Homo sapiens: one gene and its partners. The protein of the gene in region 5 purifies or fractionates together with the protein of the main gene of each other region. This does not show direct contact. Each region holds a gene or a part of one and is shown on either strand. Other genes may lie near its edges. The genes, in order: CPNE7, CAD, ZNG1A, TANGO6, VWA2 and NUDCD3.

Evidence for each region.
Region 1: the proteins of VWA2 (region 5) and CPNE7 purify together in Homo sapiens (affinity purification with mass spectrometry; one large-scale study listed by BioGRID and IntAct). This does not show direct contact.
Region 2: the proteins of VWA2 (region 5) and CAD purify together in Homo sapiens (affinity purification with mass spectrometry; one large-scale study listed by BioGRID and IntAct). This does not show direct contact.
Region 3: the proteins of VWA2 (region 5) and ZNG1A purify together in Homo sapiens (affinity purification with mass spectrometry; one large-scale study listed by BioGRID and IntAct). This does not show direct contact.
Region 4: the proteins of VWA2 (region 5) and TANGO6 purify together in Homo sapiens (affinity purification with mass spectrometry; one large-scale study listed by BioGRID and IntAct). This does not show direct contact.
Region 6: the proteins of VWA2 (region 5) and NUDCD3 purify together in Homo sapiens (affinity purification with mass spectrometry; one large-scale study listed by BioGRID and IntAct). This does not show direct contact.

What each region holds. Positions count from the first base shown.
Region 1 is NC_000016.10:89,585,758-89,589,257, reverse strand, and holds part of CPNE7 (copine-7), read right to left. Parts: coding exon 3,473-3,500; intron 2,589-3,472; coding exon 2,502-2,588; intron 2,216-2,501; coding exon 2,156-2,215; intron 1,703-2,155; coding exon of another isoform or gene 1,664-1,702; exon of another isoform or gene 584-1,663; coding exon 450-583; intron 1-449. UniProt on the Homo sapiens protein: Calcium-dependent phospholipid-binding protein that may play a role in calcium-mediated intracellular processes.
Region 2 is NC_000002.12:27,230,869-27,234,368, reverse strand, and holds part of CAD (multifunctional protein CAD), read right to left. Parts: intron 2,902-3,500; coding exon 2,789-2,901; intron 2,390-2,788; coding exon 2,145-2,389; intron 1,922-2,144; coding exon 1,675-1,921; intron 1,328-1,674; coding exon 1,229-1,327; intron 1,058-1,228; coding exon 833-1,057; intron 744-832; coding exon 561-743; intron 362-560; coding exon 143-361; intron 1-142. UniProt on the Homo sapiens protein: Multifunctional protein that encodes the first 3 enzymatic activities of the de novo pyrimidine pathway: carbamoylphosphate synthetase (CPSase; EC 6.3.5.5), aspartate transcarbamylase (ATCase; EC 2.1.3.2) and dihydroorotase (DHOase; EC 3.5.2.3).
Region 3 is NC_000009.12:151,557-155,056, reverse strand, and holds part of ZNG1A (zinc-regulated GTPase metalloprotein activator 1A), read left to right. Parts: intron 1-261; coding exon 262-348; intron 349-2,978; coding exon 2,979-3,023; intron 3,024-3,500. UniProt on the Homo sapiens protein: Zinc chaperone that directly transfers zinc cofactor to target metalloproteins, thereby activating them.
Region 4 is NC_000016.10:69,077,531-69,081,030, reverse strand, and holds part of TANGO6 (transport and Golgi organization protein 6 homolog), read right to left. Parts: intron 1-3,500.
Region 5 is NC_000010.11:114,280,754-114,284,253, reverse strand, and holds part of VWA2 (von Willebrand factor A domain-containing protein 2 precursor), read right to left. Parts: exon of another isoform or gene 2,630-3,500; coding exon of another isoform or gene 2,483-2,629; intron 1,742-2,482; exon of another isoform or gene 1,739-1,741; coding exon 1,683-1,738; intron 1-1,682. Other genes in the region: AFAP1L2 (actin filament-associated protein 1-like 2), read left to right, coding at 2,483-2,629.
Region 6 is NC_000007.14:44,480,659-44,484,158, forward strand, and holds part of NUDCD3 (nudC domain-containing protein 3), read right to left. Parts: intron 1-3,500.

The DNA of each region.
Region 1 (3,500 bases), on a different chromosome or scaffold from region 5:
TACAAAGGTGTGATCTTGACTCACTGTAACCTCCGCCTCCCGGGTTCCAGTGATTCTCCTGCCTCAGCCTCCTGAGTAGCTGGGATTACAGGCATCTGCCACCACGCCCAGCTAATTTTTGTATTTTCAGTAGAGATGGGGTTTCACCATGTTGGCCAGGCTGGTCTCAAACTCCTGACCTCAGGTGATCCACCCGCCTCGGCCTCCCAAAATGCTGGGATTACAGGCATGAGCTACCGCGCCCGGCCCCTCACAGTCTGACAAACTCACAGTGCCCACCTCATGGTGCCCCGAGGCCTGACCTGGAGCCCAGGGGGGTGAGGGAAAACCGGCCGGGTGCACCTGTCATAGCTGACCTGGAGACCAGGGGGGTGAGGGGGAAGACGGCCAGGCGCACCTGTCATAGCTGACCTGGAGACCAGGGGGTGAGGGGAAGGTGGTGGGCGCACCTGTCATAGTCCTGGCAGATCTCGCCCACGGACACCAGTGCCTTCAGGTACTCGTTCGGCTGGTAGGGGTTGATGTAGTGCAGGGAGCAGCTGTTCCGCGGGTCTCCATTGGAGGCGGTGAAGTCAATGGCCACCTGCAGTGGGCCGGGAGCCAGGAGCTGTGCTGGGCCGGGGCTCCCCGAACCCGCTCCTGACAGGTAGAGAAACCACGCCCAGAGTGGCCAGGACTCAGGGTCAGGGGTCGCGTAGGTGGGTAGGGCTGGGGGGCTGCTGTTGGGGCTGACCCACCTGCTACACAGGGCCAGGAGAGGTCTCCTCAAAACCTGCCAGCCCCTAGGCTCCCTGGATCTCCGGGAGGACACCCCACCAGGATCACCCTGGCCTTGTGGGGGCCCCGCCCATCCTTCTTAGTGGCCGCCCAACCCCTCTACCACCCTCCCCGGCAGGGCCTAAGTGGACCAAGCCTGGTCTGGGTCCCCCCACGTTTCCCACTTGCTGGCTTCTCCCAAAGCCATTCTGGGGCTCGTTCAACAAAACACGAACCAGCGCATCTGCAAATAACACGCGGGTGACACGGGGGCCGTGTATCTGTGGGTGACACGCGGGTGACACGGGGGCCGTGTATCTGTGGGTGACACGCGGGTGACACGGGGGCCGTGTATCTGTGGGTGACACGCGGGTGACACGGGGGCCGTGTATCTGTGGGTGACACGGGGGCCGTGTATCTGTGGGTAACACGGGGGGCCGTGTATCTGTGGGTGACACGCGGGTGACACGGGGGGCCGTGTATCTGTGGGTAACACGGGGGGCCGTGTATCTGTGGGTGACACGGGGGCCGTGTATCTGTGGGTAACACGGGGGGCCGTGTATCTGTGGGTGACACGCGGGTGACACGGGGGCCGTGTATCTGTGGGTGACACGCGGGTGACACGGGGGGCCGTGTATCTGTGGGTAACACGGGGGCCGTGTATCTGTGGGTGACACGCGGGTGACACGGGGGGCCGTGTATCTGTGGGTGACACGGGGGCCGTGTTTCTGTGGGTGACACGCGGGTGACACGGGGGCCGTGTATCTGTGGGTGACACGGGGGTGCTATGGGGGTGACACGGGGTGTGCGTATCTATGGGTGACGCGGGGTCTGCGGGTGACATGGGGGTGACACGGGGTCTGTGCCGGGCTCCTTGGATGACACGTAGAGACTGTGGCTGGTTCACTCAAACGCTCACTCCAGTTTCTCCTCGTTCACGTTTTGTCTGTTGTTAAATGTGTTTGTGGAAGGTAAGCCCTGGTGATGTCACCTCCCAAGGCGGGCTTGGGGCTGCTTCCTGAACCCCAAGCCCGTTTCCTCGCCTGCGCAAAAGGGAGGACCCCCAGGAGCCGCGCATGGAGACATCGGCTCACGGGGAACCGCCAGTGCCCTTTCACCCGCCAGGCTGGGACCCCTCGGGAGCGGGGCGGGGGCGGGGGCGGGGGCGGGGCCACGGACTGAGGGGGCGGGGATGGGCGGGGCCACAGACTGAGGGGGCGGGGATGGGCGGGGCCACAGACTGAGGGGGCGGGAGGGGCGGGGCCACGGACTGAGGGGGCGGGGATGGGCGGGGCCACAGACTGAGGGGGCGGGGAGGGGCGGGGCCACGGACTGAGGGGGCGGGGCGGGGCGGGGCCACGGACTGAGGGGGCGGCATGGGGCGGGGCCATGGACTCACGGTGAAGTGGATCTGGCAGCCGCCCATGATATAGTCCAGGAAGGAGTACACCCTGTGGAACTTCCGGCCGGCGGAGTCAGCGTCCACCCCCGCCAGGGACACTGAGGCCAGTGCCAGCTGGGATCCAGGCCTGCCTCCCGCAGGCAGCCCAGTCCCTCTGGGGTGCCACCCTCCTCTCCTCTCCCCCATCCTCTCTCCCCAACCTCGCCCTTCCCCGTCTCTCAGCCCCTCCCCAGACGTGCTGGGGCCCACCAGGCCTCTGGTTGAGGGTCCATCCAACAATCAGAGGGAGGCAGCGGAAGCCCCTCTTGTGGGTGGGGAGGCTTCGGGCACAGCCACCTCTCACCTTGAGGTCAGCCAGGACGACCACTCCTGAGTTCTTATAACTGCGTCTCTTCTGCTTGTATTTGGGGTTCACACAGTCCCACTGGGCCTGGGGCAGGAACAAGCAGAGGCCCCCCAGAGTGGTGGCTCTGAACACCTACCAGGGAGACCCTACCCAAGACCATCCCCAATAGCGACGGCAGAGGGCCCCGTGGTGGGGAGGGGAGGGGAGGGCACTGCTGCAGGGCAGCAGGAAGGGGCAGAGTGGGTCATACGGGAATGAAGAGGGATGGGAGTTGCATCCCCCACCCGGCATGGCCCTGTCATTAAGCCCAAGGACACTGAGGCCCAGGGACGGGGGAGGAAGCAGGGCCCAGGGTGGCCTCCCCACTGCACCCTCACCCGGCTGCTGTGGGCTGGGCAGACACAGGGGAGGGCACCCCTTGGCCCCACCTCCCACCACCCCTGTGCCCAGACCCAGATGGTGCCTGAAATGTCCAGCTGAACCTGATGGGGGCCACCCCTGCTATGACCCCTCAGGAGCCAGCACCAGGGTCCACCATCCTCAGCCTTCTCTGGTTATAACAAGTCATTGTCACCACTCCCCACAACCCCATCAGGACAGTGGGACAGGGTTTCACAGCCTCTGTGGCAGGGCCAACACAGGCGTAGCCCAGGTGTGCCCCCGACTCACCTGCCCCTCCCCAGAGGCCCCCCTCACCTGCCCCTCCCTGAATGCCCCCTCCCCCTGCTAACTGCCCCTCCCTGGAGGCCCCCCTCACCTGAACCTCCCCAAAGGCCCCCCCAACCTGCTCCTCCCCAGAGGTGCCCACCCACATGCCCCTCCACGGAGGCCCCTACCCCACCCCCCACCTCCTCACCTGACACTTCCTGGAGGTACCCCCCCAGTCCTGCTCACCTACCCCTCCCCGAAGGCCCCCCTCCACCCCCACCTGACCCTCCCTGGAGGACCCCCTACCCCGTCCTGCTCACCTGCCCCTCCTCAAAGGCCTTCTGCATC
Region 2 (3,500 bases), on a different chromosome or scaffold from region 5:
AGCTCTAGCTACAGCCCTTTCCCTCCAGCTTCCCTGCCTACTTGGATGAAGGCAGGAGACAGTGCAGGGCTTCATGGCACTGTGGCCAGCACAGAACATGCAAGAGCTGTGGCCCTTTAGTTCTTTCCTTTAGCCTTATTACCTTGGCAATGAGCTGCAGATTGAAGGGTCCTGTGACCTGTAGCTCCTGGCCCACAGCATGCACAATGGCTTTGATCCGCTCCAGGGTTTTGGCAGTGATATCTTGTGGGGGGGTCACCAGCGTCGCATCACCTGAATGCACACCTGCATTCTCCACATGCTCAGAGATGGCGATGGCTGCCACCACACCATCAGAGGCCACGGCATCCACGTCAATCTCCTAGCGGGGGGACACAGACAGTGGGACATAGGGCCACTTTCTTCTCTCACTTACTCTAGGATTGTCTCTTCCTTTAACGAGCCCCACATAGCCCACTGTTCCCAGCCCTGGTGCCTATGATTCTGCTGGACCAGAGAAGGAAGTCTCCTCCAGGGCTGGCAGCATGCCCTCAGAGACTTCACTGTCTGCAGCCTCCCACCTTAGCCTCCTGGATGAACTTGGAGATGACCACGGGATGCTCTTTGGAGACGGCTGCTGCGCTGCTCAGGAAGCGCTCCAGGTCTCCATCCGTGTAGGCCACATTCATAGCAGCACCGCTCAGCACATAGGAGGGGCGCACCACACAGGGGTACCCCACGGTCTGGCAGAATTGGCGAGCAGACTACAGGAGGCAGGGAGCTTAGCTGAGTTGTTCACACTTTCCCCCAAGCATCATCCAGCCTCCGGGTAACCCACCAGGTCCCAGCCCACCTCGAGGTCACTGAGCTCCCTCCACTGAGGCTGGCTGATACCAATGGTGTCAAGGAGCCGGGAAAACTTGAAACGGTTCTCAGCCGAGTCAATGGCTTCAGGGGAGGTGCCCAGCACCCGGCACTGCTGCCGATGCAACGCCATGGCCATGTTGTTGGGCAGCTGTCCACCCATGGATAGGATCACACCTTCAGGGTTCTCGAGCTCATAGATGTCCATCACCACCTACGTTGCAGGGGGAGAAACAAGTGGTGGCAGCAAAAGAGGGCAGGAATCTGAGCCTTCCTGCTCACTGCTTCCCTCAGCCGCCACCAAGTTTCAAAGAATCTTAGGTCAGCCAGCTGTTCTACTCGACCCTGGCCACTCAAGCTACCAGGAAGCCTCCATCTCCCTCACCTCAAAAGAGATCTCATCAAAGTAGAGTCGATCACACATGTCATAGTCGGTGCTGACTGTCTCTGGGTTATAGTTCACCATGATGGTCTTATATCCCATCTGCAAGAGGGAGGGGAAGGGTACTTAGCAGTCAGGTGGGAGGAAAATCGTGGAGAAAATCGTGGAGAAACTAAGCCAAAGCCCCTACTTCAGAGACTGCCAGCACAGCTTCCTCTGAAAGAGCTGTACAGGACCCCTGCCTTGGGAGGGAAGGAGGTACAAAGTGTTGGGGAAGAGATTCATATACCGTGTGGGGCATGAGAGATGGCCTAAAAGGACCCCCACCCCAAAGCTCTATGACCAAAGTAAGGGACGGCAATTAATAGGAAATGCCAGGATTAGTGCCAAGCAATTGCTAGAGATGAACAGAATAGCAAGGAAAGTGGAAAGAAAATGAACTCTCTGACCTTTCGGAGCTGCTGGATGCAGCCTACAGCACACCAGTCAAATTCAACGCTAGAGCCAATACGGTAGACGCCAGAGCCAAGGACTAGGACATGAGGTGTTCGAAAGGTGAGGTCATGGGTGGTGCCCCAATACGTTAGGTATAGGTAATTTGTCTGGGCTGGCCACTCAGCTGCAACTGTGTCAATCTGTTTCACTGCTGGACAGATCCCCAGTTCCTGACGCAGCTTGCGAACAGCCAGCTCTGTGCTAAAATAGAAAAAGGGTCTGAAACACAGGCCCAGAGAGTAGGGTACAGACTGATAGAGGGTTGAGACCCCAGGGCACAGATGAGAGGAAATATCCTTGGAACCAAGGTCAGAAGCCTCTAAAGCTCTCCCACACTCTCCTTCCTCCCTCCCAAGGGTCCCTCACTGATACAAAGGTTCTGCCCCACATTTCCCAGCCGGAAGCTCTCATTGCCACCTCTGACCTCAGAACTGCAAGGGCAATCTGTTTGTCTGAGAAGCCAAGACACTTGGCCTGTTGCAGCAGGTCTGGCGGCAAAGGCTGTCCACGGTGTTGTTCTAGCAGCTGGGCATGTGCGATGATACGCTTCATTCGGTGCAGGAACCAGCGGTCGATGCGTGTGAGCTCATACAGGCGGTCCACTGAATAACCAGCCCACAAAGCAGCTGCCACCACAAAAATCCGCTTATCTGTTGGAGTCTCCAACTCCTGATAGAAAGGGGGTAGACAGACGGAAGCTACTGCCAGCCCATCTAAAAGCCTGAGCGTAAGTAGCTGCTCTTGTCTCAGGAAGGGGAAACTGTACACCAGAGCACAGGCTGTGTAACTGCAAAAACCTGGATACCAATCCTGGGTCTACCTCTCATTGGCTATGTGGCTTTGAGTAATTTCTATAACCTATGTCTCAGTTTCCTCATCTGTAAAAACAAGTCTAGTAATACACCCTTGCGTGCTAATGAGACATCTCAAAATTCTCAGCAAAGTGGAAACAAAGCAAATGTCCAATGATGACTGCTGCTAGTGTTACTGGTAACAAGCTCATGGTCTGGGGGCGATGAGAAGCAGGGTCTATTTTAGGGGTATTGCCAGGGGAGGGGAGCTACTTACCATATCGCTGACTGGTTTCACTGTGTGATCAAAGCCCACACAGTTCTCATCCACCATGCGCAGGGCCTTCTGGAAGGCCTCCTCAAATGAACGCCCAATGCCCATGACTTCACCTGGAAGAACAGAATGGAAGGAATGAAGGTGTGGAGGTGGAAGGGGTGGGAAGAAGGCACTGCCCATAATGCTTATGGTTTATAGTCAAGACTCTGGGAGATTCTCAAGGCAAGTCACATGATGGTGGGATTCATGGTGTTTCACAACTAAGAAATCTTAATGGCCGGGCGCAGTGGCTCACGCCTGTAATCCCAGCACTTTGGGAGGCTGAGGCGGAAGGATCACGAGGTCAGGAGATCGAGACCATCCTGGCTAACATGGTGAAACCCCGTCTCTACTAAAAATACAAAAAAATTAGCCGGGAGTGGTGGCGGGCGCCTGTAGCCCCAGCTACTCCAGAGGCTGAGGCAGGAAAATGGCGTGAACCCGGGAGGTGGAGCTTGCAGTGAGCAGCGATCACACCATTGCACTCCAGCCCGGGGAACAAAGCGAGACTCCGTCTCAAACAAAACAAAACAAACAAACAAACAAAAAGAAATCTTAACTTATAGCTCTTTTCCCTGCTATTTTCATGGATAAGCTCAGGCTTTGTGCTTATTGATGAATATGGAATCAATATGCCTAAAACGGGCATGGGGATACTGGAATATATCCCCAT
Region 3 (3,500 bases), on a different chromosome or scaffold from region 5:
TAGTAAATACTTTGCGAATGGGTAATGTGAAATCTGAACTTGCATAGTAATGAACACAATTCATCCACATTGAAAAATTAGCGGATTAGGAGTAAACTGAGTCACTCCTATAGAGCACTAGATAATTCTTAACTGATATATTGATCTACATGAGGCGTTTTTATTTATTTTTGATTTGTTAACATTCCTCTTTTGATGTATTAATCTGCATGCGTGTATATTATTTAAAGTTTCTTAACATTTCTCTGTTTGCTATTTTAGACAAGTTGCTTTGGCAGATGCCATTCTCATTAATAAAACAGACCTGGTTCCAGAAGAAGATGTAAAGAAATTAAGAACGACAATTAGGTACGAAATGATAAGTGTGTTAAGTGCCTACAGATCCATGTTGTATACACAGAATATTTTTTACTCTGATTGTTGCCCTGTAGAAACTTAAGGTATAAGGTTGAGCTGCTTCAAGAACGTTAGGGAATCACATATATTGTTGATGGCTAATTGTTATATAAATGGTAATACATAAAATTAGTCCCCAGTGCTTGCAGAATATAGTTCACAGTTAATAGACTGATATTCAGGGTCTTCGCACTCCATCTTTCTTTTCCTGTCTTCTCTTTGACTCTTTCCTAATGTCAGTCTTCCCTAACTTTACCCAGGATGGTTAATTCACTTTCCCATGGATGCATCCTGTCAGTTCCTGTCTTTACTCGTAATGTATTCTCACTCTGCCAATCCCTGAGTTCTTTCTTGTTCTGCTTTTTTTTTTTTTAATTTATTCTATAGAGCCTATTCTGTCTCTCCCCCCTTCCTATGTGAAGTCTTCCCTGACTCAAGTGGTCTCAGTTTTCCCTGAACTCTTGTTGACTTCATCTTCCTTAACTGTCAACCATGCCTTGTCTTCCAGCTTGCTTTAATATCTTCTTTGTCCATAGCCAAGGCTGATCAGCATAGGACAATCAGGACAATATGAATGATGCTCAAATATGTGCTAACAGTCATTTTGCTGACTGTTCTGGAGACTCCCATTCCTTTTGAAAACAAAGATGGGCTTTTCAAATGAGGTTATAGTTCAGGGGCTTTGTTTTGAATTATTTTGTAAGACCTGAACTAATAAAAGCCCTATACAGAGAGACATTCGGTAGCTATTAGTATTGGTTATCTTTAATGTGTACAATGCTTTGAGCGTGATGGCTCAAAATTACTATTCTTAGTATTTATAAGTTCTACTGACATTAGATTTTGAATCTGTCATCTCAGTTCATATAGTATATATTATCAATTGAATCAATAAAGGTAAGGCTCATTAGGAGATTATTTGCCATGATTAATGATTGTGGAAGAAAGAAATTCATATTTTTTCCACATATTTCATCTTATTTTAATAGTAATGTCCTTAAACTTTACTATAAAAAAATATAATGTCTCCACGTGGAGGGTAGGTATTGTTGCGTAGTGTTGAAGATCACAGACCTTGGAATCTGCTTGGGTTCTAATCCTTGGTCTGTTTCTCATTGTCTTCTTAGGGAGCTTATTTACCCTTTTAAAGCCTCCTCTGTAAAAGGCATAATGCCTATCATAAGTTTGCTTTGAGTATTACATGAGACAATGTTGGTAAACTTTGCACAGTGCTGACACATAGTAAGTGCTCTGTTAGCTATTATTATGTAATTTTTTTCTTAGCTTACATAGTAAGTTCAAGGTATAGTAAAAAAGGGAAGAAAGAAAAAGATGGCTGATTTTGAAAAGGAGAAAGTGATGAATGAAGATTGCTTTTACATTTTTTGACACTGGTCTTCTAATCTTGTTTCTCTTCATAAATCTTGTGCACCATTGTGATTGCTAAGAAGAACACAATCTATTTAGCAAATGTTTTTGGCATAAAAGGAATGATAATTATTACTTGACTTTTATATCCTTATAGAGACCTAAGCTAAATCTCTGACACTGACAATATTGACTATTAGCCAGCTTGTTAACAGTACTAGAAATGAATTTGGAAGAAGCAATTTGATAAATTACACACCCTTTTGGCTTTTACCCTCCCTTTATATCAGACTTGTGACTGACTCAGAATGATATTTGGGGAGGTGAAAAAAGGTAAACATGTTTGAGAGGAATTAGCCATCAGACTAGAGTGTATTCAAAAAAGAAGATTTAAGAATTTTGTAAAATAGTGGAGAGACTTGCCTCAGAATCATTATATGTGGGAAGCCTTACCCATGAGAACAAACTTGAACAAGTAGCAAGAATCTTGGGTAAGTAACCCTAAAGACAATTGAATTCATGATAGAGAATTGATGATTGATGATAGGCAATGGAAAAGATAAATAGATGAGGTGTACAGTGTGTTGAAAAGAATTTAACAGGTACTTTTTGGTGCCATACGAAGCCATATTCTATAGTATCAAAAGAGGGAGAACAGGCATAACGGGTAGAGAGCCTAATTAGGTAACTGACGAGGTTATTCTATAAAGGAACCTGGGATGTGTGACTTAGAATTACTGTGAATACTAAGGACAGGCTGGGGGCAAAGCAACTTGCAACTAGGTTTTTATTTTTAGTGTGTATATAGCCATTTCTACCATGTATGCCTGAGGAAAAAAGTGACCACCGTAAAAATTTTGAGTATCTACTCATTTTTAAGAACACTAGGATAACTGACTATTTATGAATGATTTTTTCTAAAGTGAAGTGTCTTTTTATTAACCACAAAGTAGCCCTTAATCTGACAGTTGTGCGAATTTTTGCATATATGTTTTATTAATGTATGAGTGGAATATATGTGATTTATTGTTTGAAGGAAAATCACAATTATTTTTTAAAGCAAGTTTTGTTTTTCTGTTTTTAATTTTTTTCTGGTTCCAGATGTATTTGGGTATGCTTATTTCCTGTTTTAGAAACAATATACTTTGTATACTTTTTTAAAAAGTTAATTTTTACTTTTAAACTTTGTCTTCCTCATTTATTATTTATTTCAGATCCATAAATGGACTAGGACAAATCTTAGAAACACAAAGATCAAGGTACTTTAAAAAAGCTATTCCTATTAATAACAAATCATTTTAGTTATTAATAATAAACATTAAATAATTGACAAATATGCTTGATTCTAATATAAGAAAGATCTAAGTGCATTTAAAAAGAATTGGATCCAAAATGTTGTTTGGAATGCTCTTAATAAGTTAGTTTGGCATATTTGGCTAGTACATTTGCCTGTCTTCAAAACTAAGAATACAAAGCCATGATAACACTGTGTAAGTGTTTGCTTAATGAGGAAGAAAAGACTTCCAAACACTCGAGAGGGTAACTCAGTACAGAAATCTGAAGTATATTGAGGAATCTTAATTTGAAGTGTTTAAATGGCTTTTTAATATTTAAAAAGCCTTCTTAGTGTTTTATAGTTGCCAAAAAATACATGGAGTCTTTACCTTGAAGTTCCTGACAAATTCTTTTATTAAATTTTGACTTTCATTTTCTCTAGGTTCTGTTCCTAAAACATC
Region 4 (3,500 bases), on a different chromosome or scaffold from region 5:
GAGTAGCTGGGACTACAGGTGCCCACCACCACGCCTGGCTAATTTTTTGTATTTTTAGTAGAGACAGGGTTTCACCGTGTTAGCCAGGATGGTCTCGATCTCCTGACCTCATGATCTGCCCGCCTCGGCCTCCCAAAGTGCTGGGATTATAGGCGTGAGCCACCGCGCCCGGCCTAGAGGAAGGTTATTAGCCCCATCTTATATTTGCAGAAACAGAGGGTTAGAGGGTTGAGGTTACTCAGCTAAAAAAATGATGGAGCCAGGTTTCCAACATCCAGAGCCTGTGTTCTTATTTTTTATTTTTATTGAAAAGATAATACAGTACAAAAGAGTACATATTAAAAGGTAAGGCTCTGTTCTACTCCAGACTCCTAGCTGTTTCCCTTCTCAGAGGACATCATTCATATGAAGACATTTTCTAAGTGTTTACAAGCACACATGTGTATATTTCTGTTTCTTGTCCCCTCTCCCCCAGTTTTTTTAGACAGGGTCTCACTCTGTTGTCCAGGCTAAAGTACAGTAGTGCAATCATAGCTCACTGCAGCCTCAATCTCCTGGGCTCCAGCAATCCTCCATCTCAGCCTCCCAAGTTAGCTGGGACTACAGGCATACACCACCATGCTTGGCATTTTTATTTTTTTGCTATGTTGCCCAGGCTGGTCTTGAAATCCTGGGCTCAAGCAACCCTCCCACCTCAGAGGTAGGGATTACAGGCATGAGCCACCAAGCCCAGCCTTCCCTTACCTTTTTAAAGTACAAAATTATATTCTACGCTCTGTTGTGTACCATATTTTTTCCCCCACTTAACATGTTTTGTAGATCCTTTGTATAATTGGCACATATGGAAATAACTTATTTTTTATAGCTGCAGAGGATGAATGTAATGCAATTTATTTAACCATCTTTCCAATGAAAGTAATTTAAATTCTTTTTATCTTTTGCTATTGCAAATATTGCTGCAATAAACATTTTTTTGAAGATGGGGTCCTGCTATATTGCGCAGGCTGGTCTTGAACTCCTGGCCTCAAGTGATTCTCCCACCTCAGCCTCCTGAGTAGTCAAGATTAGAGGCATAAGCCACTGTGCCCAGTGCAATATGCATTCTGATACTTAGGTCATTACAGACATGTACAAGTATATCTGTAGGACAAATATCTAGAAATGGAATTTCTGGCTCAAAGGGTAATGCGCATTACAATTTTGATAGATATGGCCAGAGAGGTTCCAAGAATTTACATTTTCCTCAAACACTGTGAAAATTCCTGTTTCCCCATATTCTTATCAGTGCCATGTATTGTAAACTCCTTATTTTTGCTAATCCAGTAGAAAAAAATAGCATTTTGCTGTTATGAATTTGCATACTTCCAACAAATATATAAACATAAATTTGTATTTTTTTCTGGTATGTATAATTCAGCTTCTCCTTAATGATTCGTAAAAACTCCATTTTTTTTTAAGTCCATTATCTGTCATATGAGTTGCAAATATTTTTCTCCCAGTTGGCATTTTTTCTTTGTGAAATTTTTTATTCTGGTGAAGAAATTTCCATTTTTGATGTAGTTAAATTTATCAAATGTTTTCCTTTGTGGTTTCTGGATTTTGTGTTTTGCTTAAAAGAAATAGGGCCTATAATTTTAGCCATTATACTATGCGGTTTCTTTATTTTCTTTTATATTTATTTATTTATTTATTTATTTGTTTTTGAGACAGTTTTGCTCTTGTTGCCCAGGCTGGAGTGCAATGTGCGATCTCGGCTCACTGCAACCTCCGCCTCCCGGGTTCAAGCGATTCTCTTGCCTCAGCCTCCGGAGTAGGTGGGATTACAGGCATGCGCCACCATGCCCAGCTAATTTTGAATTTTTTAAAAAATAGAGACAGGGTTTTGCCATGTTGGTCAGGCTGGTTTTGCAATCCTGACCTCAGGTGATCCGCCCACCTTGGCCTCCCAAAGTGCTGGGATTACAGGCATGAGCCACTGCACCCAGCCTATATTTTATTTTTGAGACCAAGTCTCCCAGGCTGGAGTGCAGTAGCCGAGACGGGCAGATCACCTGAGCTCAGGAGTTCGAGACCAGCCTGGCGAACATGGCAAAACCCTGTCTCTACTAAAAATACACAAATTAGCTGGGCGTGGTGGTGCATGCCTGTAATGCCAGGCTGAGATAGGAGGCTGAGATGGGAGAATCACTGGAACCAAGGAGCTGGAGGTTGCAGTGAGCCAAGATTGCGCCACTGCACTCCAGCATGCGTGACAGAGCAAGACTCTGTCTCAAAAAATAAAAATAAAAATAAAATAAAATACAGAAACGTATATTTAACTTAGTCAACTCTACGCAAAGACTTTGTAAGGCCATTTAACAATGGAAACATCTAGATCTTGCCTTTAAAAGGCTTCTGGTCTAGTGGGGATGAATAAGAAGATAGTCACGTAAAGACAGACAATACAGAATAGAACATGGTAAAGGTCACAGGGAGCAGAGAGAGAGTGATGAGACATCAGAGAAAAGAGAGGCCACATTTTAGGAATAGGAAAGTTCACTGGAGATGGCGAATGGAAATGATGGGAAATAGTTAATTCAGCGGGTAACAAGCACATGGTCTGGGCCCAGAGTCCCCTGAGCATTCCACCAAGTAGACTGTGTCTAGCACCACGTGTCTTGGACTTGCTATAAGAAGAGAGCAAGAGCCTTTCCATCTTTCGATATTCCTGATCAGCATGGACACTGGGGAGTGAAGGCAGGAAGTCAGGGGAAAGGGCTACATAGAACAAGCTCCCCAGGCCGACCCTTCCCCACAGCGGGCCTCCCTCTGGCCGCCTGTGCTCCAGCTGTGCCGGCCTTCTTTCTTTTCTTGCCTGAACAAAGCTCCTCTCAAGGCCTTTGCATATGCTAGTCCCTCAGCCTGGGAGGCTATTAATATTTTGCTTCCTCTTCCTAGGACTCTTATACCCTTGGCCTCCGGGATTCTTTCCCTAACCCCCGCACCTAGGTAAGTCTTCCTGCCCTTCCCGGAGTTCTGTTTGTAGCCCCTATCAGGACTGTAATGTAAATATTTGTTGTGGGGCAGGCTGGTGGTATAAAAAATAAACAAATAAAAAATAAAATAAATATTTATTGTGTACTTTAAAAGGTTTTCCTCTCTAGATGGTAAGTACTATTGACACTGAGGCCATGTTTTGCCTTTTTTTCTTTTTTCTTTTTTGAGAAAGAGTCTCGCTCTGTTGCCCAGGCTTGAGTGCAGTGGCTCTATCTCAGCTCACTGCCAACCTCCGCCTCCTGGGTTCAAGCGATTCTTGTGCCTCAGCCTCCCGAGTAGCTGGGATTACAGGCACGTGCCACCACGCCCGGCTAATTTTTGTATTTTTAGTAGAGACAGGGTTTCACCATGTTGGCCAGGCTGGTCTTGAACTCCTGACCTGAAGTGATCCACCCATCTCAGCCTCCCAAAGTGCTGGGTGGGATTACAGGCGTGAGCCACCATGCCTGGCAGCCTTGCCTTTT
Region 5 (3,500 bases):
AATGACAGTATTGACTTTTGGATGTGAGATGCAAATTATGAGCAAGGCCTCTTCAAAGCTGAAAGTTTACATGGGAAACCACAGCCTGTGTCAAAATGTGGCCCATTCTGAAGCGTCTGATCTATGATTCCCTGTGGTCCATGCCTGAGCATCTCATTGCTTTCCTTATCAATTATTACAAAGTGCAGCTAAAACCACATGACCTCCTTCCCAGGGTTACAGAAAACAAACAAGGTCTTCATGTGATCATGTATTCCAAGAGCTGGATAAGCAGCTGAGTGTGGTCACAACTGGGACTGGCATTTTCTTGTCCTTTTTGCTTACAAATATTAATCTCTTTCTTGATGGCCACATCATTGTAATTAAAATATAGACTTTTCAAAGGCAGAAAAGATTGAGGCTAAGTCTAGGCACTTCGCTGGGGCTGCTGTTGTATCAGCCAGAAGACTGTGGAAATAGCTGGGGGCTCACTGAGATCGACGACAGTGGCCTTTAACTGAGCATCTATTATGTGCCAGGGACTGTGCTAAGCACAATACACGCATGGTCCCATTTCATTGTCACAACCTTAGGTAGGAACTATAAAAACCCTATATGACAGATGAGGAAGCTGAAGCTCAATGAATAGAAGTCACATGCCCCAGGTCAGATCATTGGTAAGAGGCAAAGCTGGGACTGAAAGCCATTTCACTCTAGTTTCCAAACCGGAAGTCCTCAAACCCTAATTTCTGAGCAGAAACAGCTCCACTCTCAGATTCTCCTGTGCTTCAGAGGCCGTGGTGCTGGAACTGTAAACCTTGTGAACATACTGAAGGGATCACCTAACCCCAAATAGGGACACTCGCTACCCTGCCTGTGTGTCTAACTGCTCGCTACCCTGCCTGTGTGTCTAACTGCTCGCTACCCTGCCTGTGTGTCTAACTGCTCGCTACCCTGCCTGTGTGTCTAACTGCTCGCTGCCCTGCCTGCCTGTGTGTCTAACTGCTCGCTGCCCTGCCTGTGTGTCTAACTGCCGGCATTGCTTCCGGGAGACAGGCTACTCATCGGGAGTAACAAATCCACCCCAGGACTGACACCTACACATTGAAGGGCAATTTCAAGCTCCCAGGTCAGTGGGGTCACTAGCACCCCAAGTGAGGGATAGTGAGGGCACACTGGTGAACCATGCTGAATGATGCATAATGGCATCGATGATTCCTCACGTTAATTTGGGATTTTACAGCTGAGGGATTACTTCCATGGGCATTATCTACTGAATCTTCACTAGGACCTCATATACGATGACCCCCTTTCACATGGAGGAGGGAAATGGGCTTCCAGACATCGGACAAACCACTATGTTTTATAGAGGAGGAAATCACTCAGATATCTTGCCCTGAGTTTGGTGCTGGCTTTGAGGATGTCTGCAAAGCTGGTGCTCGGTGCCTGCCTCTCTGCCTCTCACCAATGCACACAACACTGGTTCAGGGGAGTAATCCCAAAGCCGCCACTCCATTCTTAATGAGCAAACACCATTGAGGGAGTCAAGAGCACACTCTCCTCTGCCCCCCAAGTGCCCCATCCCTCTGCCCTGGAGCCAGTCACAACCCCACCCTCTGTCCCAGGATTGTAAAAGCCACTTTACAAAGCAGCCTGGGCCCAGGGCCCTGAAAGAACCTGTAAATCCAAGAGACAGACCATACCTGGGCAGGTGGTCCTGTAGCAGGTGGCAGGGTGGGTTAGGAACACTCTCTTCCAGCTACAATCCAAGGAAACAGAATTATAGACAGATCAGAGGTGTAAGGGGAGGGCAGAAAACAGAAGATGATTTACAACACCAAAAGCTGATAGAAGATTCCAATGCAGAAGTAAGAAAGACTTCCTGGTTTTGTTTCTTGATTCTACCCTAACTTTTCTCTGCACATAGAGTAGGGAATGTTTCAAACTATCCAGTGACAATTAAAAAAAATAGGCTGGGAGTGGTGGCTCACGCCTGCAATCCCAACACTTTGGGAGGCCAAGGTAGGCAAATCACTTGAGGTCAGGAGTTTGAGACTAGCCTGGCCTACATGGTGAAGCCCCGTCTCTACTAAAAATACAAAAATTAGCTGGGCGTGGTGGCATGTGCCTGTAATCCCAGCTTAGCAGGCTGAGGCAGAAATGCTTGAACCCAGGAGGCAGAGGTTGCGGTGAGCCGAGATTGCACAACTGCACTCCAGCCTGGGTAACAGAGTAAGACTCCATCTCAAAAAAAAAAGGTAACATAAGCTGGCTATCACATTTGAAATTAGGGACATCCACATGCAAAACCCCAAACTGTAGCAACAGCTTTTTATTATAAGTTACTTTCTGAGGCTTACGATGCAGTAGGGAGAGAAATATTGGGAACTGGGCAACTGGATTTTGGCTGTGTGACCACAGACATGTTACTTTCCTCCTCTGGTCTTCACTTTCCTCTTTGTATAGTAATTCTATCTTCACTTTTCAACTGTATTCCTTAAAGCTTCGATGGGGAGAGAAGAGCACTGAAGGAGCAAGGCTCCAGGCCTCCCGCAGTGCCCCAGCCCCGCCCCTCCACCCCAGGTGTGCTGCTACTATCTGGTCCACACAACAAGTGTCCACACGAGGCTCTGCAGGTCAAGACATGTAAGCCACTGGACTCAATGACTTCTCAGGTCTGCTGGAGAACTAACGTTCTGTGATAACACAGCAGCCACCATTCCTTGGGTGGCTTCCACCTGCTGGTGTTCCATGAACCACAGCTACCTGAAGAGATGGTTCCCTCCATGTTCCAGATAGGGAAATGGGTTCTGAGGGCTCACTTAGGGCCCCTGAGGTCACATAATTACCGGAACACAGCAGAGCTGGGATCCAAACCCTGACCATGACTCCAAATCCCCCCACTCTACCCTGTGGGCCTCACCCTCGCCTCTCCTGCGTCTCCGGGGCCATGTGCCCTGCTGTCACAGGAGCGGTTCCTCATCTGGGGGCAGAAAGCCCCACTCTGGGTTGGCAGCAGCTCCTGGGATGGCCTCACCTGAGGAGACTCTTGGGCCTTGGCAGAAACATTCCCTAAAGTTCTCCAAATAAGGCTTCTTCCAACAAGATCCCACCCTGGGCTGCCCACACAGGGGCAGGCCAATCAGGTGCTCCTCTAGGGCAGGGTCTTCCCTGGGGTAAAATGGAGTACACGCCAAGTCAATTCAGAGCTCATGGAGTTGCTGAAATAAAGGTTGCCAAGGCTGGGCGTGGTAGCTCACGCCTGTAATCCCAGCACTATGAAAGGCGGAGGCAGGAATTGAGCTCAGGAGTTTAAGACCAGCCCGGGCAACATAGTGAGACCCCATCTATAAAAAAAAATCTTAAAAATTAGCCGGCCACGGTGGTGCGTGTCTGTAGTCCCAACTACTTAGGAGGCTGAAATGGGAGGATCACTTGAGCCTGGAAGTTTGAGGCTGCACCAAGCCATGATTCTGCCACTGTACTCCATCCTGGTGACAGAGCAAGACCTTGTCTCAAAA
Region 6 (3,500 bases), on a different chromosome or scaffold from region 5:
TGGCCAGGCATGGTGCCTCACACCTATAATCCCAGCACTTTACGAGGCTGAGGCGAGTGGATCACTTGAGCTCACCAGTTCGACACCAGCCTGGGCAACATGGTAAGACCCTATCTCTACAAAAAATACAAAAATCAGCTGGGCAAGGTGGTGCACGCCTGTAGTCCCAGCTACTTGGGAGGCTGAGGTGGGAGGCTCGCTTGAGCTCAGAAGGCAGAGGCTGCAGTGAGCCAAGATCATGTCACTGCATTCCAGTATGGGCAACAGAGCAAGACCCAGTATCAAAAAAAAAAAAAAAAAAAAAAAAAATCCAAAAATTTGAAAAAAAAAAAAAATGGATTGTTTTGTCTGTGCTGAACATGTACAAACTTCTTGTCATTATTCCCCAAATAATACAGTGTAACAACTATTTACATAGCATTTACATTGTATTAGGGATTGTAAGTAATCTAGACATAATTTAAAGTCTATGGGAGAATGTGCATAGGTTATACACAAATATTATACTGTTTTATATAAGAGACCTAGACATCCATGAATTTTGGTATCCACGAGGGACCAGGAACCAATCCCCTGCAGATACCAAGGGATAAGTGTATTTATTAAGAGAGTTACTGCAAGAAATTGGCTTACATGATTGTGGGGGCTGGCTAGGCCAGTCTGAAATCCACATAGCAGGCCAATGTGGAACTCTCCAGAAACTGAGTGCAGCTGCTGTCCATCGGAGAAATTTCTTCTACTTCAGGGGAGCTCTGCTGCGCTCTTCAGGCTTTCAGCTGATAGATCAGGCCCACTCAGATCACCTAGGACAATCACCCTTACTTAAAGTCAACCAATTATTAACTTGCATCACATCCACAAAATACCTTGACAGCCATGCCAAGATGAGTGTTTGACTGAATAACCAGGACTGTAACTTAGCCAAACTGACAAATGAAACTGACCATCACAATAACCATGTCAGTAGTCTTTAAAAGCATTTTATAAATGTATTTCTCCATTCCCTTACTACAGAAATTCAGCATTCTTCCAAAATTTTGCTAATATAAGTAATGTTGGAATAAATAGAACTGAAGTGAACAATGCTATAGACTGAATGTTTGTGTCCCAAAATTCCTACGGTAAATCTTAATCCCAAGATATTGGGATGAGTACTTTGGGAGGTGATCAGGGCTCTGCCTTCATGACTGGAATTAGTGCCCTCATAAAAGATTTGAGAGAGTTCTCTCACCTCTTCCACCATTTGAGGACACAGCAAGGTAACTACGAATCAGAATGTGGGCCCTCACCAGACACTGAATCTGCCAGTACCTTGACCTTAGACTTCCAGTATCCAGAACTGTGAGCAATAAATTTATGTAGTCTATAAGCCACCCAGGCTATATTATTTTGTTATAGCAGCCTAAGTGGACTATGACAAACAACTTTGTATATTAAATCTTCATTCTTACATCTGATTATTTTACAGAAAGACTACTAGTAAGGAGGCTGCGCATAGAAAGAACTCCAAAAAACCTCATAGGATCCCCTTGAGTCTTTGGCTGAATACAAAACTGCACATGTGTAAAGTGCAACTCCATGAGACAAGTAGGAAACCTGGGTAACTGACATGGACAATCCCTAGAGCTGGGAGACGTTCAAGCCTCAACCAGTCAGAATGGAAAGACCTCACTAACAGCTGGAGCACTCAGAAGCCCCAAAAAGGCATGTCTTAGAAGACTAAGCTAGCTTTAAAATAAAAGTACCCTAGATACAGCTTAACAAAGCTGAAAAACAAGGCCAGACACATTGGTGCACACCTATAATCCCAGCACTTTGGTAAGCAAAGGTGGGAAGATCATTTGGGACCAGGAGTTCGAGATTAGCCTGGGTAACATATTAAGACTCCATCTCTACAATCAATTGATCAATCAATACAAATAAAAAACAAGCTTCAAAAAGATCATTCTGATCAGCAAATAAATTAATTGCCTGCAAGAACAAAACTCAACACTCAACAGAAGAAATCAAAACCCAGAGACTCGACAGCATAACATCCATTAATGTCTAGCATCCAATAAAAAATTATCAGACATTTGAAAGAAAAAGAAAATGTAACCCAAAATCAGGAGAAAACTCAATCCCTAGAAACAAACCAAGAAATCACAGAGATAATGGAATTAGCAGATAAAGACTTTAAACTATTGTAAGTATATTGAAGGATTTAAAGGAAAACCAAGGTAGAAATTGAAGCCATAAAAAACAATCAAGGGGAACCTGCAGGGCTAAAAAATAAACTATCTGAAATTAAGAAGTTACTAGATGAGTTTAACTACAGATTAGACACCAAAGGAGAAAAGACAGTAAAGTTGAAGACAGGTCAACAGAAAATATTCCAAAGGAAGGACAAAGAGAAAACAGACCTCCTAAGTGTGTGTGTGTGTGTGTGTATGTGTGTGTGTGCTCAAAAGTCTCCCAATAGTATAAACACAAGGACTATCATGCATGAGTAAATCTTAATCAAATTGCTCAAACTAATGATAATAACTTCAAGGAACTGATATAACAAGAGAATGGGGATATTTCACACACAGGGGAACAAAGAATGTCTACTCACTTCTCATCAGAGACAGTGCAAGCTAGAAGACAATGGAATGATAGTCTTTAAAATGTTTGAAGAAAAACAAAAACAAAAAAAAAGTGTCAACCTGCAATTCTATATCCAGCAAAAATATCCTCAGAAATGGAAGATGAAATAAAGGCATTTTCAGACAAAAAAGCTGAAAGAATTCACTATCAGCAGATCTGCACTATAAAAAATATTTTAAAAAGATCTGCAAGGAAATATCAGATGTCTGCCTTCCACCCTATACTCCCCACTTCCAATCTCTAAATCCTTATTTCACCCCTTCTCATCCAGAGCTCCATATTCAAGAGCTGCTCCCCTTCTCCATCAGCTTGGTTCTGCCATCAAACAATTGTTTTCTTCGAACTCCATTAGTTAGCCTGGACTTTAAGACTCTGCAATCTTGCCCCTCCTGTCTTTACAAAACTTATTTTCTCTTACTCCATATTTTATAAGCCATTCCAAGTTGTTCACTTTGCTTCATTAACTAGAAAAAAAAACAAAAACTCCCCCACAGCCTAGGCAATACAGCAAGAAAATATTTTTAAAATTTAGCCAGGTATAGTGGCAGACATCTCTACAAAAAATTACAAAATTAACCAGATGTGGTGGTGCATGCCTATGGTCCCAGCTACTCAGGAGGCTGAGGCGAGAGGATTGCTGGAGCCCAAGAGTTCAATTCATATATTGCGCTATGATCACACCACTGCACTCCAGCCTGGCCAACAGAGTAAGATCCGGTCTCTATTAAAAAGTGTGCACGCACACACACAATCTCCCCCAAAACACGTCAGAAAGAGAGTAAAGGAGTGAGAAAAACAGAAGAGAACTCAAGGTGGCAGGGATTTGGGGGCACACAGGTGACCCATCCTATCAAGGAGGGAAGAGAGTGAAT